2 separate regions of the Homo sapiens genome follow, and region 1 is linked to region 2. The links come from fine-mapping of genetic effects on gene expression. A gene starts in region 2. The other region holds a variant in brackets. All regions are shown on one strand. Distances are between the middles of the regions. Region 1 overlaps BDNF (brain derived neurotrophic factor). Region 2 holds the start of BDNF (brain derived neurotrophic factor).

What was found. PIP is the estimated chance that this variant, and not a neighbour inherited with it, causes the effect.
Region 1: its variant is the best candidate, but not a certain one, in a credible set for the expression of BDNF in left ventricle (GTEx, PIP 0.55).

What each region holds. Positions count from the first base shown.
Region 1 is chr11:27,653,067-27,657,588 of GRCh38, forward strand. It overlaps BDNF (brain derived neurotrophic factor), which reads right to left. Exons shown (of 2, transcript NM_001709.5): 2 at 1,827-4,522. The region is part of intron 3 of BDNF-AS (BDNF antisense RNA); the gene reads left to right. Among named protein-coding and RNA genes, the nearest start is that of LINC00678, 21 kb to the left of the region's middle. The variant C/T (reference allele first, on the strand shown) is at 2,428.
Region 2 is chr11:27,698,434-27,702,433 of GRCh38, forward strand. It overlaps BDNF (brain derived neurotrophic factor), which reads right to left and starts at 2,022. Exons shown (of 2, transcript NM_001709.5): 1 at 1,731-2,022.

The sequences.
Region 1 (4,522 bases), 45 kb before region 2:
TTGGATCAAATCTGTGAATGGCTTTTTGCAAGCTAAATGCTTCATCTTCCTAAATTTATGTACACGTATATTGTTTCTTATCCCAATTAACAGTCTTTATTTAACAATGGCTTATCAAAATATGCAGCCATTTCTACTTTAACTTGTAGACCAGGCTTGATGTTAGAACATGATGGAGACAAGTATGTTTTACAATAACCTTAAACCTTAACACTATTGGGAGTGCTGGCTGAACTGAGGCAATGCCTGAAGCCATTTGTTGCAGTTCAAAAAGTGTTTGACATTTTATCCAGATCTAGAAGTCACTTAAATGAATGAGGAACAATTTAACACTGACCCATTCTAAGACTTAGTTCAGATTCTCATTTCGAACTGTCTTATTATTCACTGAATTAGTACAGCTCATAAAAAGATTTCATAGACACAGCTAATGACCACAGAGGCTTATCAGTATGGTGAAAAACAACAGATCAAAGCAATGATCTGAGTTATTTCCTGGCATCTTAGTAATTAAACAAGTTTAACTGCTTACTCAATGAATGCAGTACACATTGGTTACTCCTATTAACTCCAAGTAGGATAATTTAGTAGATGTCTCTATTTTGTTTTTTTCTCCAACCTCATCTTCTAATGAAAACTTTCAGTCATGTTTACCAAACTCGTTTAACTTCAAGTAATTTGGATGTCATGTTTAATTTTTACTTTTTTTACTCAACCATTTAAAAAATATTTTAGTCCTCTGACTATGAAAATTGGTCAAGCCTGAAGTTTATCAAAGTTCTAAGTCCATGGCTGGGCTGTCATGACTGGCAGTCAAGGGCTTCTCTTAGAGTACTTTTCAAGTTCACTGGACAGATTAGGATAGAGTAATTCATCTCATTCGATCTGTTTTTCCATATACACAACACAAGTCAATGTTTGTTATGACTTTCCTGATCCTTATTTATAAGACAATACAAGAGGAAACCATGTGTGTATGTTTAGAAATAGAAATGATACATTGCACAGATATAGTTCACCACGTTATGGGATGGGTTGTCAGTGTTCAAATGGGGAGGCTGAAGAGTAAGAACAGATGCTTTTTTTCCTTAATGGCCCCTTCTCTGATTTAAAATCCTTCCATTTATTTCCCTAAGATTTAGTGATAACTTTAAACACTTTAACTAAATTACCCAGCGGCTTGGCAGCCATCACGGAGGCAAATCCTTTTAGAAATCCTAGCAATCTGTTAGATTGTGGGTACTATGATATAAAATCTGTGTGCTCCACGTACAAAAATTAAATCAGTGCTATGGATACAAATACATACTGCAAATGGCACCACTTCCAAACCGAGGATATGTGACCTGTCTCCAAATATTGAATTTCTTTTTTTACTTTTTTCCCCAGTACTTGACTTTCTAAATTTGGGCCAATTTATTCTCATTATCCCTAAGTAAACCTACTTTGATTTTTTTTAACAGTTATTTTATAGTCAAATAGAGCCAGCCAGCCAGCCGTGATTCGTGGATCCTGATGTTGCTAGGATACATGGTTTGGTATCTGATGAAAGTATATCACTTCAAAGGGGTAAAACTTTCAAGTGTCCGAGAAAATGACACTCCCATCTTCCACCATGGAAGACAGATCCAATCCTACAACTTCTCAGAAGCTCACAGACTGCAGGATTGGCCTCCCAGGCTTTCAAATAAGTATCCTCTCTGGAGGGCTGTTTAATTACTAAAACTAGTCAGATTAGTCTTAAAGCAAGGAACACACGTATTTATAATAAAACACGTTTTCATGTTTGTTTTACAGTAAAGAGAAAAAAACCCAGAACCCCCAGATTTTATGTACTTTGAAAATATATTTAAAAACATTAAAAATTCTATATTTAAAACATATATTATATGTTAATTAGTACACTTAAATAGAACTTGTATTTACAATAGGCTTCTGATGCGGTTAAGTTTTAATGCCAATTTTTTTCAATAACATAATTATATAAATATACTAAAATACAATAAATATTGTTTTTTGTTTTACATGGTGAATAATATCTTTACCATAGAGAGAACAAGGCCACAGACATTTACTTACATTTTCAATGGGAATCGCCATAAAAAAGCAACAGGCCTGCTGCCATGCATGAAACACTTCTGCCACAAAGAGACCACAGCAAGACTTTAAAAAACAAAACAAAACAGAACAAGAACGAACACAACAGAGAGAGATTTTAACAAAATAAATCTTAGGTCAACATAAACCATCAAGCATGTGACTGTGATGTATCTTATTGGGTAAAAGAGCCACTGACCACACAATTGCTGGATGTGTCTCCTATGAAACCACTTAACAGATCTGGCCCTTGCAATCCTTTAAGTTTGTGATGGGGGGTTGTTTGTTTTAAATTTGTCCCTCAAAAGGAAGCTGCATAAAGTTGACATA[C/T]AGCAGATATTCCAAGCATTCCTTACATATTAAAAATAATTACAAAGATAATATTTTCAAACAACACAAAACAAATCTACACTACGTAAAGTCTTCCTTCTTTCAAAGAGGTATTCAGATGGTACTGTGAAAGACTAGCTCTAAATGAAAGACTGAACAAATTGAAATTCTTTGCTGATGGTATCTTCATTCCTGGGTTATGGTGAACATCCTCTTTTGCTTATCCCTCACCCTACTAAGATGCAGCAATTGCTTGGGGCTTTCTGATACTTAAGGATGCTGGTCCAAGTGGTGATCACTAACATTTTCAGGTGTGAAATGGGCTGAATGGGCTTAGAGCTCTAGTTTTCACTGGGGATCCATTTTTCCAAGAACCACTATTTCAGGCTCCCAACTTGACTTCTCCTAACCCAAAATGGCAGAGGTGAGGCAGGGACCCTCTCCATGAACAGACAGGATGGGCAGAAGGTTGCTGTGGCCTTCACTGGGGAGCAAAATTTTGTCAGCTCTGTCCTGGCCTCTTCCATTGAGCAAGGCACCTTCAAGTCTTGGTGTTCTGAATGTCCAGACACCTTCCCGAAGTCTTGTCTCTGGACAAGATTTCCTATGGGTCCCCTTGATCATTCGGCCTGAGTTTGGGGTTTCTTTTCCTGTTCCCTTTTCCCTTACCAAAAGTTCTCAAAAGATAAACCCTGGTTTCCTCAAGTCTAGTTTCAAAGCAATAAGTGTTCAGGTAGCAAACATCTTCTATCTCATTGCATCAATCTCATGATCACAAATGCCACATTTGGCTCCCAACCTGCTCCAGGCTAATCCAATTTTATGCAAAATTATCCAGAGGTGGGATGGTGGGCATAAGTCGGCTTGAGTGTGGTCCTCCAGTCGAGAACCTCTTGAGCACAGTTAGATAATGTAGGCACTTAAAGCACGAGGTCCAAGCAGCTTGACACATGTCATTCCAGAGCCACCTCTGAAGGGTCCTTCAGAGGCCTTCGTTTTGGAATGTCTCAAATACCATGCCCCACCTCCACCTAGACCTTGGGATGGCCACTCAGAAATTCCTCCCGCACTGCCGGTAAATGCAATGCCAACTCCACATAGCCTCCATTTGGCTGTTCAGTCTCATGTCACTGGCAATGTGGATTCCTGTTCTGATCTAGGTGTTTCTGGGTTGATACAGGGCTCTACCTTTTGCTTACAAGACATTGTTAAGCCTCACCATGAGTTTTTTTTAAGCTTAGCCATGATTTACCCAAATGTTCACTCCTCATAAAAAATAATCTTCATTTTGGGGTTATTTTTTGTTGTTTTCTGTTCTAAAAAAAAATCACTGTTCTCCATGCTTATACGAGTGTCATGATGTGACACAATGTGTTCACTTGTTCACAGCAGTGGTAAAATATTTCAGAACGCGCAACTGATTTTTCTTCCTTAAAACAAAACAAAGAGGAGACCAGAGGGGGAGGGGGGGAAAGAATGTGTTCTGAGCAAACATAGGTCCTTCCGTCAAAAGCAGCTTACTCTGACCAACGCCCAAAGAATGAGCGGGGCCTGGGAGGTGCATCACGGGATGTGGAGTGTGAGCATTTTTTTGTTCAGTTGCCTTAATTTTTATTCACTTTCTAGTCATCTGATCGATATTGCAAACATCTTCACAACATACAAATGTATCTTTTATCAGCCAGAATATATATTGTAGGAATTCTTTCCCCATCTCTACTCCCTGTGGGAACTAAAAAACAAAACAAACAAACGAAAAAAAAACACAAAACAAACAAAAATATACCCCCCATCCCCCATCCCCTAAGCCAGTAAAGCAATGACAACAGCACCTTGACATTGTTTTAATTCCAACGCTATCAGAAGTTAAAAGCAGTAAAACAGATATAGTACTAACAAGAACGAAGATACTTACTGTCTAAAATGTAAACGGAATGTTTTGGTTCAAATTTTTGTTGTGTGTGTGTGTGTTTTTTTTCTGTTTTCTGAAAGAGGACAGTTTATTATCAATTCACAATTAAAGCAGCATGCAATTTATTATTTTTTTTAACTTTTTATGTTTTCAGTTCTTGGCAACGGCAACAAACCACAACAT
Region 2 (4,000 bases):
AAATTATGTTGCATGAGATAAGCATTGAAGGCACACACGTTCATACAAATTAAATCTGTAATTATGCCTCAATAAGTTAAAATGTAAAGACATATCAAATTGTAAGACCAAAATGGCTTTTGACCTTACAACAAACTCATATAAAAATAGATTTTTCCATAATAATAAAGGGGAGAGAGAGATTTTGCAGGATATTGAGTCAGTAGGGAGGGGTCTCATTTAATATCATGTCGCCTTTTATATGCAGTTAGAAAATCAACGTTCCCAATTACATATTACTTTGCTTTAAAAGATTACTAGGAGGATTAATAAACACTCAGAAATATGCCTTTCTTTGCTTCTGGCCAAGAACATTCCTGCGTGCTTGTCGGAAAATGTTCTTTGGTTGCTACTGACATTAAGGAGTAAGTGCAGGATAACTAGAGGACCCTAAAATAAGATCCAAGAAGCCCTAACACACCGCCAATCGAGGCTTATCAAAGCTCCCCCAGCGCGAGGAAAACTTGCATAGAAGCCAAACAAGAACGAGGAGTCAAAATCCACCGACGACGAGTCGCACGCCCCACCGAGCTGGAGTCAGCAGCACCATTCAACAAGTCCCTCCTACCAGCTCTCTAAGGGATCCCGCAAAACCTTCCTTTACCACTTCCCCACCCCCAGCCTCCCGCCCCCAGTAGCTGCTCTTGGCAGCATGGCCGGCAGAGGGCACCCTCTACCTTCCCTAGCTTCGTTCTCTGGGTCCCCTCCTCCTCCTCGCCTCCCCTCCACCCCGGTCCCTCATCCCCGCTCTACCCCCAACACACAAACACTGCATCCTCCAGTTCACCCTCGCAGCCCCGAGGCTTCTTCCTTAGGGATGCCCCTAGTCTGTAATCTCCCCTTCTTCTTGCCCGTCAGGCACAGAGCCCCCAATCCTCAGCTATTTCTTTCCAGGAGTAACTCACTCACCCATTCCTCTTCCCGGCTCTGCATCCCCAGAGACTAACCCGAGTCAAGAATCCCCCACGTACATCCCAACCACTCCCCGAAAGTCAAAACTCTTAACTTCCCTGGAGGGCGCTTCAGAAGAGGGGCGCAGGATGGGTAGAGATGTGGGTTCGGCCTGCCCGAGAGTGTCGCAGACCCTTTCAGTTCCCAGCGGTAGGAATTCCGCCTCCCAAGTTTTCCAAGCTACATTGGCTTCGGACTTGTAAGTCCACTTCAGTCTCAATTCCTGGGGAGCAGGTAGCCGTGTGCAGCTCCGGGGAAGGGATGCGGGCTGAAGGCGCAAGCTTCCCTCCCACTCCCCCCGCAAGTCGGCGCGGGGACCACCCACCCCCTGGAAGGATTCCTAGCCTAGCCCCAGCACCCTCCCCTCAGTCAGGACCCTCGACAGCTCTGGCCCCCTAAGTCTCTCTCGACTACTCCTGGGCTGGGGGAGGGCTGCGAGGGATCCCCGGGTCGCCGTCTTTGCTCCCATCACGCAGCTCTGGGTCTCCTCCAGGCCTTCCCTCCTCTACTTCGTGACTTCCCCGGGTCCCTTTTTCCCTGGTGGTGCCGGCTGACCTTCTGGGTTGTGGGATGGGGGAGAAAACTCCCCAAGAGTAACTCCAAATCGTCCCTTCTACCGGAGGGGAGGAAAGAAGGAGACTGGCCTCGTCCCACAACTTTGGGGTGGGGGATCCCCCAGTCAACTCTCTCCCGCGGACGGGCAGCTCCTGCACCAAGCCCCATTCCCAGCGCTTGCCTACCTCGGGGTCCACACAAACCTCACGGGTCCCCGGCGGCGGAGTCACATCGTGGTTCCGATTCTGGCTCCAGCGCCCAGCCCCGGTCCCCGTCGCGGTGCTGCTCCCCGCCGGCCCCACAGCAGCGGTGGGTGTCTCATTAAAGCCCCCCGAGCAGGAGGTGGAGGGGCGCACCGGGCTGGCTCCTCTGTCCGGCCCGGGAGCCCGAGGCGCTACGGGGTGCGCGGGACAGCGAGCGGGCGGGTGCGCCCGGGCGCGGCGGCGGCAGCGTCGGGGACCCGGAGCTCCAGGCTGCGCCTTGCGCCCGGGTCAGACATTATTTAGCTCTTCGGTTGAGCTTCGATTGGTCAAACGGCGCCGCCCCCCCCCCCCCGCCCCCCGCCCCCCGCTCCCCGCTCGCCCGCGCTACCGATACCCGTTCGAGGCGGCCGCTTAAAGGGAACGCCGCGTCTTTTCCTCGCGCGGGGAACCGAGGGGCGCCCGGAACTCCCCGCTCCCCCGGGGCCTGTCCTCACCTCCTCCCCTAGGGCCCCGCGACATCGCCCTGCGAGTCCTGCGCCCTCCTGGGGCGCCTTGGACAGGACGCCCGCGGCTTCGAGGGGTGTTCCAGCCCCAGCCTCAGCCCCGGGGAACCCCGCGTCCCGCGCCCTCTGCAGAAACCCCGGCTGTGGGCGCTGGGGCGGGAGGGAGCGAGTGAGAATCGCACGCCCCGAGGTCTCGCTCCCCTAGCTTTCAACTCTCCCCTTCCTCCCCATCCCAGCACCCAAGTTCTCTGGGAGAGGGCGTGCGTTTCCCGGGCCACAGACACACCTTCCCGCACCTTCCTGCACTACGGAGCTTGCGAACGCGAGCACACAATGAAATCGCACAGAGCATGGGGGCTATTGGTTTACTCTGCTGCCTTAAACACGCCGGCTTAAACAGAGTTCGCGCACTGACCTCTCTAGAGTTTGCCTAATAGGAATTCAATCAAGATAATAACAGCATTTTTTATTGATGAACGCCCCCAGATAACGTTACACCAAGTTACTTGTTCCAGCCAGGAAGCCCAGGCAATGACAGACCTCGCTAAAGCCACACGCTTTCTAGCCGACCAAACAGAAAAACGGAAAGAGAAAGAAAGAAAACAAACCCACCTTTTCAGTCACTACTTGTCAAAGTAACCATCAAGGCAGCTGCTCCGGGAAAGACTTCGGCCCCAAAACTCCCACACTCTATTATTTTTTCACGTTCCCTTCGCTTAATTAAAGGGGGGAGGGGGCGCGAGTCTTTGGTGCCCGGTATGTACTCCTTCTGTTCTGCAGCAAAGAAGTTAAATTATTGATAGTGGAAATTGCATGGCGGAGGTAATACTCGCACCCCATCAGCGAGAAGCTCCATTTGATCTCGGCAGAGGCAGGGAGATTTCATGCTAGTTCGCCGGGGGGAGCGGCAGCGAGAGCAGCCCTCTCCGCGGTGAATGGGAAAGTGGGTGGGAGTCCACGAGAGGGCTCCACGGTGCCTTGACGTGCGCTGTCATATGATACCTCCGCTGCCTCGAAATAGACACTCTAGTGCACGAATTACCAGAATCAAAATTCAGCGCATTTAAAATGATACATCTTTTATTAGAAGAGTTCCGTTCCAGGGCATTGCATGCTTTTGCAGATGTTTTCACTTCCAGCCCCAGCAAACACACGTATAAGCTAACCCTTTTAATAACGAACCAGGGCAGCCAAGATAAATAAAAAGTCTTCTGCTTTAACCAGAGTGGGGGTAGGTGATTCGAGGGTGGGGGCAGAACTGGCTCAGTTAATCCTCCCCCGCCCTCCACCCCCACCACTGCCCGCAGCAAAAGAGCAAATAGCCTTTCGGGTTCTCATTTGCCTGTAGCCAAGACCCTTGAAGAGAACTTATATGGCTAGGGTCCAGAGGACATTTTCAATTATCCATTTGATGAACTCTGTCAACCGTCTACCTGTGTTTCTGCTTTAAAGCTGAATTTTCTTCTCATTAGTTCAACCAATTTGTGCAGACCTTAAAATTTAGAATAAAGAATAAGACAGCAGTACCGTACTTAACTTGGAGTCCCTGGACCTCCTCGGAGCATAAAAATCACCTGGGTGAGTGTTAAAATGAAGGTCCCTCCTCCTGAAATTGTGATTTAGTAGGGGTGGGGCAGGGCCCAGGAGTTATAATTTTAATAAATACCACAAGCAATTCGAATGCAGACAATCTGAAGTCACACTTTGAGAAACACTCTCTTGGGGGTACAACACTGGGTATCAGAGGAA